Regions from separate parts of the Homo sapiens genome. Here region 2 is linked to region 1. A link means that fine-mapping ties the variant in region 1 to the expression of a gene that starts in the linked region. Tissue or cell type: unexposed skin. Region 1 holds a variant in brackets; the other region holds the start of a gene. All regions are shown on one strand. Distances are from middle to middle.

Region 1 (2,680 bases):
TCTCATTTCCTCTTGCATTTATTTATATTTTATATTAATATATGTGTGTGTATATATATTTATTTATTTATTTATTTATTTATTTTGAGATGGAGTTTCGCTCTTGTTGCCTAGGCTGGAGTGCAATGGCGCGATCTTGGCTCACTGCAACCTCCACCTCCCAGGTTCAAGTGATTCTCCTGCCTCAGCCTCCCGAGTAGCTGGGATTACAGGCATGTGCCACCATGCCCGGCTAATTTTATATTTTTAGTAGATACGGGGTTTCTCCATGTTGGTCAGGCTGGTGGTCTCAAACTCCCAACCTCAGGTGATCCGCCTGCCATGGCCTCCCAAAGTGCTGGGATTACAGGCGTGAAGCACTGCGCCCTGCCGTATTTTTTTTGAGACAGTCTTGCTCTGTTGTCCAGGCTGGAGTGCAGTGGTGCAATCATGGCTCACTGCAGCCATGACCTCCTGGGCTCAACCAATCCTCCTGCCTCAGCTTCCTGAGTAGCTAGGACTACAGGCATAAGCCATCATATCCTCCTCTTTCATTTAAAGTAATCCTGTCATTAAAGCAGATTTACTTTTCACCACTGACATTACTATCCTGGCCCAAGCCCCTTTCCTCACTCCTGGATGATGCAGTAGTCTCCAGATTTCACTCCGCCACATAGTCTATCCTCAACAGACTTCAGTCAAAGTGACCTTTTTAAGAATGGTGGCTTAGGCCGGGCGCGGTGGCTGATGTCTGTAATCCCAGCACTTTGGGAGGCTGAAGTTGGCAGATCACCTGAGGTCAGGAGTTCAAGACCAGCCTGGCCAACATGGCGAAACCCCGTCTCTACTAAAAAATACAAAAAATTAGCCGGGCGTGGTGGTGGGCGCCTGTAATCCCAGCTAGTTGGGAGACTGAGGCAGTAGAATTGCTTGAACCTGGGAGGTGGAAGCTGCAGTGAGCCGAGATCACGCCACTGTACTCCAGAGTGGGTGACACAGCAAGACTCCGTCTCGGGGGGGAAAAAAAAGGTAGCTCTGTTGGGCACAGTGGCTCATACCTGTAATCCCAGCACTTTGGGAGGCCGAGTCAGGTGAATCACCTGAGGTCAGGAGTTCAAGACCAGCTTGGCCAACATGCCAAAACCCTGTCTCCAATAAATATACAAAAATTAGCTGGGTGTGGTGGCGCTCGCCTGTAATCCCAGCTACTCGGGAGGCTAAGGTAGGAGAATCACTTGAACCCGGGAGGTGGAGGCTGCAGTGAGCCGAGATTGCGCCACTACACTCTAGCCTGGATGACAGAGTGAGACTCTGTCTCAAAAAAAAAAAAAAAAAAAAAAAAAGAAGAAGAACGGTGGCTCATGCCTGTAGTCCTAGCACTTTGGGAGACCAAGGCAGGCGGATTGCTTCAGCCCAGGAGTCTGAGACCAGCCTGGGCAAC[A/G]TGGTGAAAGCTTGTCTCTACAAAAAATTTTAAAAGAATTTTTTGGCCAGGAGTGGTGGGTCACACCTGTAATCCCAGCACTTTGGGAGGCTAAGGCAGGCGGATCACTTACGGTCAGGACTTTGAGACCAGCCTGGCCCACATGGTGAAACCCTGCCTCTACTAAAAATACAAAAACTAGTCGGGCGTGGTGGTTCACTCCTATAGTCCCAGCTACTTAGGAGGCTTGAGACACAACAATCGCTTGAACCTGGGAAGCGGAGGTTGCAGTGAGCTGAGATAACACCAGTGCACTCCAGCCTGGACAACCAAGCAAGACTCTGTCTCAAAAAAATTTTTTTTTAATATTAGCCAGGTGTGGTGGGTGGCACATGCCTGTAGTTCCAGCTACCAGGAGGCTGAGATAGGAGAATCGCCTGAGGCCAGGAGGTCGAGGCTGCAGTGAGCTGAGATCAGTTCATTCCAGCCTTGGCAACAGAGCAAGACCCTATCTAAAAAAAAAAAAAAAGTTAGGCAAATGCTGTCACTCCTCTGCTCAAACTTCTATAGATATATGGATCCTATTTGGATGTAAATTCAAATAAGGCAACTGGGAAAACAATTATTTAATATATTGAATAAAAATACATAAGTCCATAGTGACAGGAGGAGGGAGGGATCAGAAGGGTACTTTACAACTGCAAAAGGGAATAATTGATTCAGACAAATATAATTAATGCCAAAACACAACAATCAGGTGAAAAGGCTCTCTTCTTGGAAAGAGGGTCTTTATGCAGAGGCAAAATATCACCCCTCAAGATTACCTAATTTTCAGAAAAGGGAAAAGATACCTTTCCAGTGGAGCAGTCTGGCAGGCATTACCTTAACTGCAAGTTCAAATTTAGCCTCACTGATGAGTCAGCCTGAGACTTTGTGCCTCCTGATGTGAGGCAAGATTAAGTACACAAAGTATCACCTATGAAATCTTCCTGCTAAATATGATGAATTTGAATCCAATTAAGCTTCTAGGCCTAGTGTAATTTCCAATTTACAGAAAATACAGGAGCTAAAAGAGAAAAACAGGAAACAATTAGCTCCAGAATAATGGACATTCCACAAAGTCAATGTCCTGAACTCTTTGTTTTATTTGTTTCTTTATTTTATTTATTTATTTATTTTTGAGATGGAGTTTTACTCTTGTCGCCCAGCCTAAAGTGCAATGGCACGATCTCAGCTCACTGCAACCTCCACCTCCCAGGTTCAAGCAATTCTCCTGTCTCA
Region 2 (2,680 bases), 280 kb before region 1:
CCGGCTCATTTTCTGTATTTTTAGTAGAGACGGGGTTTCACCACGTTAGCCAGAATGGCCTCGATCTCCTGACCTCGTGATCCGCCAGCCTCGGCCTCCCAAAGTGCTGGGATTACAGGCGTGAGCCTCCGCGCCTGGCGACACATTGTTAGTTTTGACATCAGGATATTTCTTGCCTTATAAAATGAGTTAGGAAGTGTCCCCTTCTCTTTTGTTTTCTGGAAGAGATTGTTTGAAGTTGATGTTAATTCTAATGGTGTGGTGTGTCTGACTCCTGGGGTACAGCGGGGAGAGATGCCCAGCAGGCAGCCAGGTGTGTAGCACTGAGCCTTGAGGCAGGTCTGGGGGAGTCAGAGGGCAGCCCCTGGCTTCATGAGCTCAAAGTTAGAACCCACAGAAGACTGAGGATGTTGAAACCTCCCTCCCTGCCTGTGACAATGGCTACTCTGATTCCCCCCACCCCAGTCAGGGGTGATGACAATGTCTCATTCATCTGTCTCCCTGGTGCCTGGCACGGGGGAGGAGGGGTGCTCAGTGAATCTGGGTGGCGCAGTAGCCTGTGTGAAAGCAAGAGGCATTTCAGGAAATTCACGGGGCGGGCTTCCTCCTGGGAGGTGTGGCAGAGGGTGCTGCCAGGAATAGAGGGAAACACTTTCTTCCTTTTCCTTCTACTGCCTAGTGTGGGGGTGGAGGGGAGATGATAGGACAGATCACCGAGTTGCCTAGAGACCTGGAGACCGACCCATCCGGGTCGCCTTCCCTGGTGCGCTCTCGTCGGCTCCATCCCTGGTTGCCATGGAGACAGGAGGCGGTTGCCACGGAGACCGACGACTGCCAGGACCAGCCAATCACTCCAGAGCTGCAGCTCCAGCTCACCTTTTGCATGGAGGCATCGGGCTGGGCGGGGCCCCCTCCCTCCCCAGGCCCTGCACCCTCTGCTTGGTCAGCGGGGAAGGAGGCTGCGCCGCCAACTCCACCCAAAGCGCTCCGAGCATCCCAGAATCCCAACCACCTCCCCAGCCTCCCACAACCAGGGTTCTAGGGGCGTCCCCGCCTCTTCCTGGCCACGGGCGAATGCCACCCTGAGGCAACCCAGCTTCCAATTGGCCCTGAAACCCTCCCTCGTAAATGCTGTGGAAAGGGTGGGACCGGGCGCAGGCGCCCACCCCCGCTCCCCCACGAAACCGCCCACAGCGAGAGGGAGGCCACAGCCGGGTGGGGTGGGGGCGGGGAGGGAGCCCCCCCTACGCCCTCCGCAGTGCCTGGCGAGCCCGCGCACGCTCACTCGCTGGGACAGGCGGGCGGGGCGGCCTGACGTCACCCACTGCCCCCACCGCCCGGCCGAGGGGCGGTGGCCGCGCAGGCTCGGCGGGGCGGCGGCACGGACTGACGGAGGGTCGGAAGGACTGAGGGACGGGCGGGCGCACGGCCAGGCCATGCCTGGGGAGGCTGCCCGCGCCGAGCTGCTGCTGCCCGAGGCGGACCGACCCGGGCCCCGCACAGGTGAGGCCGTGGCCACTCTTTCCCTGCCTTCAGCCTCTCCCCTCTCCAGCCCGGGTTCTCTTTCCATCGCTCACCTTTCACCCCTCTCCCCCATCCCCCTGGCCCCCCTCGAGTCCCCTCCCCTTTCCGCGCCCTGTCCTTCCCTCCATCTGAACCCTGCTACCGCCTCTCTCAGAACTGCGGGGAAGGTGGGGCGCACGAAGTGCCCGCCGCGAGCCAGAAAGAACGTGGGGGCTTAAGCCCTTGGCTTCCGACCCAGGGATCGTGGGGCTCGCATCCCGCCCGCTGCATCCCGTTGTTTGCACCGAGCTGCCAGCCTGCTGGGGCTGGGCCGCTCTGGACAGAGGCAGCGGGTTCTGGAGGCGGGGTGTCCGGCTGATACCCCCAGTACGATCAGGTGACCACCGGGAGGGTCCTCAGTTGCACCCGGTCTGTCCTGGGCCGGCGACTGGTCATGGCTCTGGAGGGAGGAGCAGGACTGGCCAGAGCCTAGGAAGCCCGGATGGAGGGCCAGGTGGTGGAATAAAGCCTAAGTTGGGTCTGGAAGGTGGAAGGCCTTGGGGGAGGTGGCCTGATTAGCAATGGCCCTGGGTGTGCAGACCACCTGTCCTTAGGCTGGGTCAACAAATGCTGGTGGAGGCTGATGGGGTCTACGGGGCCTAGAAAGAGCCGAGCCTGGACAGTCCTGGCGTGGAGGTCAGCCATGTGTGGGTAGGGCCAAGGGCACCTTGCTGTGGGCAAGAAGTCACCCAGAGATGGGACCACTGCTGGGGCCTGGGGCCTGGTTTGGGGTGACACAGGCTGCTGCCTCTGCTCTAGGTGGGAGGCAGGGAGTGCAGGCCCAGACTTCCCAGCCCCAGGGTCTTGTGCTGGCTCTGTTCTGGCTTGCTTGGTGACCTTGAATGAGTTATAAAAACCTTTGGCCTTTGGTTTCTGCTCCATCCCAACAGCTCAGCCGTTCCCCTGCCCTGGGGGCCACACCAGGGGCCAGAACCAAGAGCCCAGCTTCAGGGCACCCAGTGATGCCCCACCAGCCACGCCCACTCCTGATGTTGGGTGTCAGGCATGCAAGAACCCAAAGGACCCCCTTGTCTCAGGACCCCCTGGATGTCCCATCACCCCAGCAGCAAAGCCCTTGGGTGACAAGTTTTGGCTGGTGGTTCAGGGCTCAGGGCTC

What was found. PIP is the estimated chance that this variant, and not a neighbour inherited with it, causes the effect.
Region 2: it holds the start of NACAD, and the variant in region 1 is fine-mapped to the expression of NACAD in unexposed skin (GTEx, PIP 0.91).

What each region holds. Positions count from the first base shown.
Region 1 is chr7:44,810,887-44,813,566 of GRCh38, reverse strand. No RefSeq gene overlaps it. Among named protein-coding and RNA genes, the nearest start is that of PPIA, 16 kb to the right of the region's middle. The variant A/G (reference allele first, on the strand shown) is at 1,421.
Region 2 is chr7:45,087,651-45,090,330 of GRCh38, reverse strand. It overlaps NACAD (NAC alpha domain containing), which reads left to right and starts at 1,362. Exons shown (of 8, transcript NM_001146334.2): 1 at 1,362-1,503. The coding sequence starts at 1,437.